2 separate regions of the Homo sapiens genome follow, and region 2 is linked to region 1. The links come from fine-mapping of genetic effects on gene expression. Tissue or cell type: sun-exposed skin. Region 1 holds a variant in brackets; the other region holds the start of a gene. All regions are shown on one strand. Distances are between the middles of the regions.

Evidence for each region. PIP is the estimated chance that this variant, and not a neighbour inherited with it, causes the effect.
Region 2: FAM47E starts here. The variant in region 1 is fine-mapped to the expression of FAM47E in sun-exposed skin (GTEx, PIP 0.93).

The regions. Positions count from the first base shown.
Region 1 is chr4:76,219,915-76,225,185 of GRCh38, reverse strand. It overlaps a transcript of SCARB2 not described here and a transcript of FAM47E not described here. Among named protein-coding and RNA genes, the nearest start is that of SCARB2, 8.7 kb to the right of the region's middle. The variant T/C (reference allele first, on the strand shown) is at 2,080.
Region 2 is chr4:76,248,446-76,253,716 of GRCh38, reverse strand. FAM47E (family with sequence similarity 47 member E) reads right to left here and starts at 1,996. Exons shown (of 8, transcript NM_001136570.3): 1 at 1,897-1,996. The coding sequence starts at 1,970. FAM47E-STBD1 (FAM47E-STBD1 readthrough) reads right to left here and starts at 1,996. Exons shown (of 7, transcript NM_001242939.2): 1 at 1,897-1,996. The coding sequence starts at 1,970. It overlaps LOC105377286 (a long non-coding RNA gene), which reads left to right and starts at 2,040. Exons shown (of 3, transcript XR_938897.4): 1 at 2,040-2,609.

The DNA of each region.
Region 1 (5,271 bases):
CGAGTGGATAAAGAAAATGTGGTATATATATTTACTATGGAATACTACTCAGCCATAAAAAGGAGCAAAATAATAGCATTTGCAGCAACCTGGGTGGAGTTGGAGATCATTATTCTAAGTGAAGTAACTCAGGAATAGAAAACCAAACATTGTATCTTCTCACAAGTGGGAGCTAAGCTATGAGGATGCATATAAGATGCTAAGCTATGAGGATGCATTATATCATTCTTATGCCTATAAGAATGATATAATGGACTCTGGGGACTTGGGGGGAAGGGTAGGAGGCGGGTGAGGGATAAAAGACTACACATTGGATACCGTGTTTACTGCTTGGGTGATGTGTGCACCAAAATCTCAGAAATCTCCACTAAAGAACTTTTCCATGCAACCAAACACCACCTGTTCCCCAAAAACTTCTGAAATTAAAAATAAATAAATAAAATAAAATAACAAAAATTAGCTGGGCCTAGTGGCTTGCATCTGTAGTCCCAGTTACTTGGAAGACTGACCTGGGAGAATTGCTTGAGTCTGGGAGGCAGAGGTTGCAGTGAACCAAAATCATGCCACTGCACTCTGCCTGAGTGACAGAGTGAGATCCTGTCTCAATAAAATAAAAAGGATTTTTTAAAAAGTTATAATTGTTTATTCTTTCTCTGCCCTTTTAAGATGTATGAACATCTTCTTAAAAGCTTTAAAAAAGTCTCCTGCCACCTTTACAACACAGGAATGTTTTTCTTAAGGACTTGGGAGTGAACCCTTTGAAGTGTAATCATCAAGAAAGACAGCCCCTCCTCTCTCCATTTCTGTGGGAGGGCAGGAGCCTAACTCTAAGGTGCCTGGCTCTAAGTTGCAAAACTACCTCCTGTCATAAAGATATGAGAAGTTTTATTTTTCCTTCGGATAAAGGCAATTAACACAGATGGCCAGCCCAATTATCCCGTGAATTTCGGATGAACTATGTGTGACAATGGTGCTGTCAAGTCTTCTACCTGAAAACATGTATGTAATGGACTGTATCTGCCTAGATATAGGAAAGGGTAAGATTTCTTTCTGACTTTGCAATCTGCAATCTCTTCAGCAGATTGCCTGTGATGCACGTCACATTCTGGTTTAATACCTATTCAATAATAAATTGTCTTTCCCTTCTGTGTTTGTGGGGAGGTCTCCTGGTTTGGCAGGAGATTTTATTTTTAATTACATTCCCCCAACATCATCAGAACCTGGGAAGACAGCATGACTGTGTCACACATCGCTCAGGGATAGGGTAGCAGCCCAAAGATCAAGCCTGAATGTCCCAAGACATAGTGATCTTCAATAGTCCAGGGAGACTCACTCTGAGGGTGGAAAGCAGGCCAGGGACACTCTCCTTTTAGTGAGGTGGAGAGTGGAGAGTCCAAATACCAGTTTTGAGGTCCCCTGAAGAAGGGTTATGGAAAAGCACACTTGTGACTGGGCCTTGAGGGACTATGGACTAACCTGCTATGCTTCTCACACTTTACTCTACTCATGGGTCATAGGTTGTTCTTGTTCAAATGCAAATTTTGTTTAGTTGGCCCAGACCAGGGCCTGAGAGTCTCTATTTCTAACAAGCTCCTAGGTGGTTCCAATGCAACGTCTTGGGATCACACTTTGAGTAGCAAGGGATTAGAGGAAGAGGGCGGTGATAATAAAGACAACTGTGATAATATTGTGATGCACATCACATTCTGATTCTGATTCTGGATTATACAGGATTCTGCTGTCTTCTCACAGTACCCAGCCAAATTTTGATGAATTCTCAAAGTTAGACTTCTGGCTAAGTAGGACCCAATAAGGGGTGGGCTACTGTACCACTCCCCAGGATGCAGATTACCCAAAACTCACTGGAAATCTACCAAGAAGGAGACAATTCTGTCTCCCAAAGCCTTTCACAGGCCAAGCACTGTATGTGTTTGGAGGGAACACTTGGTTAAGCCACTTGCAGAAATGAGCTGAGGTTAAAATAAAGTACTTCCAAGGAAGGTAGTTTTCATTAACACCTGGAGGACTGTTTTACTGAATGGTGTACAAACATGCCCCCAGAGCTGGATTGACAAGAGG[T/C]TGACATCTGCTACCAGCCCCCACAAAGCCTTACCTTTGATATTGAACAAAAATATGGCTTTGAAGGGGTGTGCAATTATCATTAGTCTGATGCATCCACCTGTCAAGGTCTGATCCTGCCAGAGAATTCTTACACCTACATGGTCGATTCCCATGCACGAGGCTTCACCTGGGCCTCTTCCCCCCCTGCCTTTCTTCTGAGCTTCAGCTTGGAACTCTTGCCTGACCAAGACTTAAACTAGGCGCTCAGCTGGGGCTTACTAGTCCTCCATGGTAGAAATATCCATGACCAGGGTCTTCTTCCCCTACCCAGACCTTTGAAAAATTAATAGATGTGAAGTCCTTAGAACAGAGCTTGGCATATAGCAAGTAATATTTACCTTTTGCTCAGACATAGTAAATAGAGTTTGAGAGAACTTCAACAGTGACAAGCAAAGGATGGGTTTGTGCTGTTGACTCTGAAAGAATGTGAAGGACCAAAACCCTCCTCTGATGATTACCCGGAACTTGAGAGGCTCCTCTAGGACAGGGCTGGTGGAGGCAGCGGAGAGTTAAGGACTAAGGAGAAGATAGGAAAAAGGCCGGGCACGGTGGCTCATGCCTGTAATCCCAGCACTTTGGAAGGCCGAGGCAGGTGGATCACCTGAAGTCAGGAGTTTGAGACTGGCCTGGCCAACATGGTGAAACCCCGTCTGTACTAAAAAATACAAAAATTAGCTGGGCATGGTGGCTCACGCCTATAGTCCCAGCTACTGGGGAGGCCAAGGCACGAGGATTGCTTGAACCCAGAAGGCCAAGGTTGCAGTGAGCTGAGATCACACCACTGCACTCCAGCCTGGGCAACAGAGTGAGACTCGGTCTCAGAAAAAAAAAAAAAAAGAAGATAGGAAATATGATGCCCAGATGTTCATGAATTGGACACTGGAAGGATTGGAGACTGAATTTAAAAGTAGTATTTTGTACCACTGAATATTGAGATTTTTCTTCAGATAAAGGATTGGGCCTGCCCAGCCTCCCTGAAATTCTGTGTAGGCCTCATTCTTAAATGTGCAGTTTCTTTTTGTTGTTTCATATAGAGATATTAGTATACCAGGTGGATCCCTTCATGGTAGTCACCTATTGTTAAAGAGTTTGGGATGAATTCCACAACATCATGTGGCATAGATTAAGGAATACGCATTTTTTTCCTTTGATTTTTATTTTAGGTTCAGGTGGTACATGTGCAAGTTTGTTACACAGGTAAACTGGGTGTCGCTGAGGTTTGGTGTGCGAAGGATCCTGTCACCCAGGTAGTGAGCATGATACCCAATAGGTAGGTTTTCAACCTATACTCCTCACCCACGTCCTCCTTCAAGTAGTCTCCAGTGTCAATTGTTCCCATCTTTGTGTCCGTGTGTGTTTGATGCTTAGCTCTTTAGCTAATAAGTGATAACATGCGGTATTTTTTCTCTGTTTTTGCAGTAGTTCGCTTGAAATAATGGGGAATAGGCCGGGTGCGGTGGCTCATGCCTGTAATCCCAGCACTTTAGAAAGCCAAGGCGGATGGATCACCTGAGGTCAGGAGTTCAAGACCAGCCTGGCCAGTGTGATGAAATCCCGTCTCTGCTAAAAATACAAAAAATTAGGCAGATGTGGTACCAGGTGCCTGTAATCCCAGCTACTCGGGAGGCTGAGGCAGGAGAACCGCTTGAACCCAGGAGGCAGAGGTTGCAGTGAGCTGAGATTGCACCACTGCACTCCATCCTGAGCAACAAGAGCGAAACTTCATCTCCCCCATGCCAAACAAAAGAGGAGTAATGGGGAATAGGCTTTAGTGGGGAAAAGAAAAACTCCCCAGGCCAGGACCAGTGAGGCAGTGGTCGCCCAAGCTTACCATTAGTGAAGCAGGTGAAGGCTGCTGGGCTGTATGATTCGGTTCCAGAGGAGAAAGCCTGTCCCCTTCCCCTGCCACAATGGGTTTTTCTTCCTGTGGGCAGGTATGGGAAAGTGGCCTTGTTCATAAGGGAATATACAGATTGCATGGTGCCAGGCAGTCTGGACTTAGGGAGCTGACTCTTTACAGGAGTTGATTAGGAATCAGTGAGGGACCTTGGGGCCTGTGAGTTGTACAGTTTCCCATGGGGAAATAAAGAGGACCAGGAGGAAGCTGCCATCCCCAGGGGAAGCTGAGTGTGTGTACTGACTCCGCTGAGAGAATGAAGAAACCCCTGTGGTCCCAGCTGATCCCAGGTGAGCACCTGGAAGCATTCTTGTACAATCTTGCTTCTTATGTAACAGAAAATGTACCTATGACTGGTTATCCCTTTTATTTCTCCCTGGGTAAAAAACTGCCAGAACTTTCTAGAATTCTTTTCCCATCACTGATTTTTAAAAAGATCATATTCTAAGAGGGACCATTACTCACATCAGAAATGGCAGATGAGAAAGAAAAGAAAAGAAGTCTGCACTGTAGTAGCATGTATCAGGACTTCATTCTTTCTTTAAGAGACAGGATCTAGCTCTGTCACAGGCTGGAGTACAGTGGCACAATCAGCTCACTGCAGCCTTGAACTCCTGGACTCGAGGAATCCTCCTATCTCACCTCATAAGTAAGCTGGGACTATAGGTGCATGCCACCGTGCCCATCTAATTTTTAATTTTTCTATAGAGATAGGGTCTTGCTATGATGCCCAGGCTAGTCTTGAACTCCTGGTCCCAAGCAATCCTCCTGCCTCAGTCTCCCAAAATACTGGTATTACAGGTATGAGCCACCACACCCAGCCTATTTCTTTCCTTTTTATAGCTGAATAGTATTTTCCACTGTATGTCTATAACATATTTTGTGTATCTATTATTGTCTGATGACATTTGGGTCGGTTCCACCTTTTGACTATTGTGAACAATGCTGCTATGAACACTGGTTTACAAGTATTTGTTTGAGTACCTGTCTTCAATTTTGGGGGTTATATACCTAGGAAGAGAGTTGCTAGGTCATATGATAATTCTGTTTAACTTTTTAAAGAACTGTGATTTGCATCTCTATCTCCTCTGGTTTGATTCAAAATGGAGGAAACAGTTCTGCTTAAGATAGCTTGCAGTGCAATTGAAGCAAACACTACTCATTAATATTCTGAAACGTTTTTCATTGACACTAAAAAGAAACAGTATTTATTTATGAAAGAACTGGAAATGCTTACAACTGTTGTAAAGTTA
Region 2 (5,271 bases), 29 kb before region 1:
TCCCTCCACCTCAGCCTCTTGAGTAGCTGGGACTACAGGCATGTGCCACCATGCCTGGCTACCGCTTTCCTCTTTTTAATAAGGAAACTAAGTTCCAAGAGGAGAGTAAGGCAACCAGTGTAAAGGGAGGGCTTTCCTCTCCCCCACATGGCCTCTCATAGTTAATAAGCTTACCATTCTGCATTATGTTAGGTTCAGGAAAAATCTTGCTTGGCCCATAAAATAAAACTGGAAACAATTTTTCTAAATATTTACTGTTTTCACAGACACTAGTACATGATATATGGATATTTCCCTCTTTAAGAATTGCAAAAGGATACCGGACATGTATCCTAAAGAAATGAAAAAGTATGTTCTCAGAAAATTCTGTACACAAATGTCGATAGCAGCTTTCTACATATTAGCCCCAAAACTGGAATGTCCAAAACAACCTGAATGTCCTTCAACAAGTGAATGGATAAACAAACTGTGGTACATCCACACCAAGGAACACGACTCAGCAACAAAAATGAACTACTGATACACACAACTTGGATGGATCTCAGAGGCTTTATGATGAGTGAAAAAGAGCCAGTCTCAAACAGTTACATACTGTATTATTCTGTTTATCTAACATTCTCAAAAGAACTAACTTACAGAAATGGAGAGCAGCTTAGCGATTGACAAGGCTGGGGTGGGAAAAGAAGTGACAGCAAAGGGGTAATACTAAGAGTTCCTCTGTGGGGAAGGAACAGTTTTGTATCTTTATGTATACATATGACCAAATGTTACAGAACTCACACACCTGAGTGCAAGTAAGAGCTGATAAAATCCAAGTAAGGTCTCTAGTTCAATTAGCATATTCTGCCAATGACGTTTCCTGGTTTGGCAATGTGCTATCGTTATGTAAAATGGTACCACTGTAAGCAGCTAGGGGAAGGGTACATGGGACCTCTGTACTATTTCTGCAACTTCTGGTGAGCCTACAGTTATTTCAAAACAAAATTTTTAAATGGGGGGGAGAAGCTTCCCAAAGAAGCTCTTATGAATAACTGCTAGAAACAACTATGAATAATTGCTAACATGTACACGATACGTTCTATGTGCCAGTGACAACTTTACATGTGCTATCTCCATTAATCCTCACGACAATCTTAGAAAGCTGATTCCTAAGTTATTGCCCCATTTTATAGTTAGGAAAGTGAGCCCAGAAGGAGCAACCAACTTGCCTAAGGTCACCAGGCAAACAAGAGGAGAACTAGCCTTCTACTCAAGCCTTTCTGATTCTAGACTTTGGAATCTTCACCACCACATCGTGCTGTCTCCAAGACAGACGAATTCCATTCTCAAAAGATTGTCAAGGAGTCGGTAAAGGCAAAAACCTTCTTGTTCCTGCTCTGAGGCTACCACAACCGTACAAAATGTTAGCAGACCTCCCTAGCACCCCAGGCGCTCCCCCAACCCTGGGCTCCACTTGGCCACAGCCGCCATCTGGATACCAAAGGCTCCAGGGGCAGCAGATGCCTAACATCGGATACAGGGCTCCAGGCGCCCCGGGGCATCTGGCGAACAGTTGGTTGGCTAGGCCGGAAAAGGGTGGGTGGCTAGCAGGAGGGCACCAGCCTCCGCAGCGGACTCTGCGGCCATCACTTTCCCATCAGAAATGGGGATATTAGTCTACATCCCTGGGGGCGTGGGAGGCGGGGGTTGTGAGGATGACAGCAGGAAAAATCCTTTGCAAAGAGCAGCGCCAAGCGTTGGTTATCTCAGCGTATTATGTTGTACGTACAGGAAGCATTGAGGAGGGAAGGCAGGCTGGACCTCTCCCCTCGCCCCCGCCCCAGCAAGCGCGGGTCTCCAGGCGCCCCCGCGCGGCCCGCGTGGGATGCGCCCTCGGCCCGGGCGCTGAGTGTTTACCTGGACCTGCAGTTCACGCCCTCGCGCACCGGGGCCAACGTCCCCGGCCGGAGCCGCCGCCTGCGGTCCGCCATGGTGGCCCTAGCTTCGCGGCCACCGTCCGGGCTTGGGCGGTGTGTGTGCCCTGCTGCCGCCCCGTTGCTAGGACACCGCACAACCACCGCTGCCGGTATTTGCCCCGGGCGCCTGGCAACTCTGACGCCCCGCTGCGCGGTCCAACCCCTTCTCCGACGCCTGGGGACGTGGACCTGGCCGAGGGAAGGGAGAGGGTACCGGTCCTTGGTGTAATCACGTTTTACTCTGCTGGGAAGGCGTGTTCATCTTCCCACCGAAACGCGCCATAGACTGGATCAGGCGTTTTTTGCTCATCATCGTTTCAAAAAACGTTTACTGAAGGAAAGAAAGGAAGAAGGCAGGAGGAGCGATAAAGAGATAGCAAGAGAAAGAGGATGGAAAGTGGGGAAAATGAATAGATTTCTAAAGGTTGGGAAAGCCTTTTAGCAGGGAGATGTTTTCCTGGAGGTCTTGGAACTCTCTTGGTCTCACAGCCTCTGTAAACCGAGGGCTGCACACCTGTCTCTAGTCCCCAGCTGATTTCCAGAGGCCCTTCCAGCTCCTGTGTTGATTCTTCTGCCTCGACTCACTTCTAGCAGACAAGTACCATCCAGCTGACCCTGGTAGGCACGTGGCCACATAATACGGATTGCACGAGGGTGTGTTTCGTTTTTACTAAATTCTTATGCTACTTCTGAGTGTTTCTGATTTAAATATAAGCATTGGTTCTGCTACTTAATAATTATGCACTCCTGGGGGCAGGGTACTTACATTTTTAAGCTTCATTAATTACCTGGCCTGAAAATGGGGAAAATAATAGTATCTACCTGTAGGGTTATTGGGGATATTCGATGAATATAAAGAAATTAACACAGTGCCAGCATTTAAGAATCCCTCAAGAATTATTATTATGCAAGTACTATTATTCCAGCTGTGAACCGGGGGTGGTAATATTTGTCCTGACTACTTAACAGAGCTGTTGTGAGTTAGTTAATGGAGAAAGCTATGTAGGTAATCATTATAATTAGCCCAATTGTTATTTTTATTTTCTTTGATATTAGTCCGATTGTAATGCAAACTTTTTATTACTTTGAGGAGGTAGGGTTTCTGTAGAAATTCTGTGAGAACTGGGCCAAAAGTATGGTTATCTAGGCTGAATGGAGTCCTGCAGGAATGATTTGTAACAATTTGCCCAAACAATGCTTGATTAAACTAAAAAGCTTCTACACAGCAAAAGAAATAATCAGCAGAGTAAACAGCCCACAGAGTGGGAAAAATCTTTGCAATCTATATATCCAACAAAGGACTAATATTCAGAATCTACAAGGAACTCAAACAAGCCAGCAAGAAAAAAACAAGCAATCCCATCAACAAATGGGCTAAGGACATGAATAGACAATTCTCAAAAGAAGATATAAAAATGGTGAACAAACATATGAAAAAAGGCTAGATATCACTAATTATAAGGGAAATGCAAATCAAAACCACAATGTAATACCACCTTACTCCAGCAAAACTGGCCATAATCAAAAAATTTAAAAAATTAGATGTTGGTGTGGATGTGGGGAAAAGAGAACACTTTTACGCTGCTGGTGGGAATGTAAACTAGTAAAACCACTATGGAAAACAGTGTGGAGATTCCTTAAAGAACTAAAAGTGGATCTACCATTTCATCCAGCAGTCCCACTACCTGGGTATCTACCCAGAGGAAGAAAAGTCATTATACAAAAAAGATACTTGCACACACATGTTAATAGCAGCACAATTTGCAGTTGCAAAACTATGGAACCAGCCCAAATGCCCATCAATCGATGAGTGGATAGAGAAATTGTGGTATATATGTGTATATATACACATATATATAATGGAATAACATTCAGCCATAAAAAGGAATGAAATAATGGCATTAGTAGCAACTTGGATGGAACTGGAGACCATTATTCTAACTGAAGTAACTAAGGAATGGAAAACCAAACATTGTACATTCTCACTCATAAGTAGGAGCTAAGCTATGGGGATGCAAAGGTGTAAGAATGATAAAATGGACTTTGGGAACTTGGGGGGAAGGATAGGACGGGGACAAGAGATAAAAGACTACACATTGGGTACAGGGTACACTGCTTGGGTGATGGGTGCACCAAAATCTCAGAAATTGCCACTGGAGAACTTACTCATGTAACCAAAAAAAAAATAAATAAATAAACAAATAACGGATGCCCAGAAATATTCTGAAGGAGGCATTTTACCGGAATCTCCAAAGGTTGTGACAAAAAGAAGAAAAAGCTGACTACAATTTATATATCAGCAAGCAAGAGGTAGAGTTTCCTAAGATGGCTTTCTATATATTTTCTACAGCTGCAATAATCCTTTTAAAAATATTTAGCAAAATAATATGTTGGCAAATTATCACTCTTAAATAAACAAACAAATAATAAATAAACAATTTGTCCATATGCCTAGGGTTTCTACCAATTCAGGACTGCTTTCCCATTTCTCACCTTAAAGTTCTATTTTTTTGTTTTGTTTTGTTTTCTTTTTTGAGACAGAGTCTCACTCTGTTGCCCAGGCTGGTGTGCAGTGGTGTGATCTCAGCTCACTGCAACCTCCACCTCCTGGGTTCAAGCGATCCTCCTGCCTCAGCTTCCCGAGTAGCTAGGATTACAGGCACGTACCACCATGCCGGGCTAATTTTTGTATTTTTAATAGAGATGGGAGTTTCACCATGTTTGCTAAGTTCTATTGTTTTTGTTATTCAAATGCTTGTTTTTCTGGAATATATAATAGTGTTTGAAAATACTATTTTATATATTTGAATAATCCTTTTGGGAATGAAATGGCCAGCTTACCTGGCAAAAAGTCTAGAAATAAACACCTGGAAAATCACCAACCTCATTCTTAAATAACATATACTCACTTGATTACTGTATTTAATACATTTCACCTTTGAGTTGAGAGAGAGAGAGAGAGAGACTGAGAGATTCTCTAAGTAATGACTACAATTATGGTATGCAATGTATGGAGTCAAAATTACCATATAGAGCAATTATCAACTTGTGATGATGCAGATGTCATGAAAATAGATGGTTTCTTATTTATTTATTCAGCAAACACTAGCAACAAAGTACCAAGGTGACGAGGATCAGGTCTGTTTTCTTCTCCATTGCATCTCCAGTGCCTAGTATGGTATATAACAAATCAATAGTTGTTGAATGAGTATATAATGTGTGTCAGGCACAGTACTAGGAACAAGATGGACAAGATCCCTACCCTAAGTCTTGGAGAAATCCTACCTACATGCAAAATAATGAAGTTGGGCCCTTA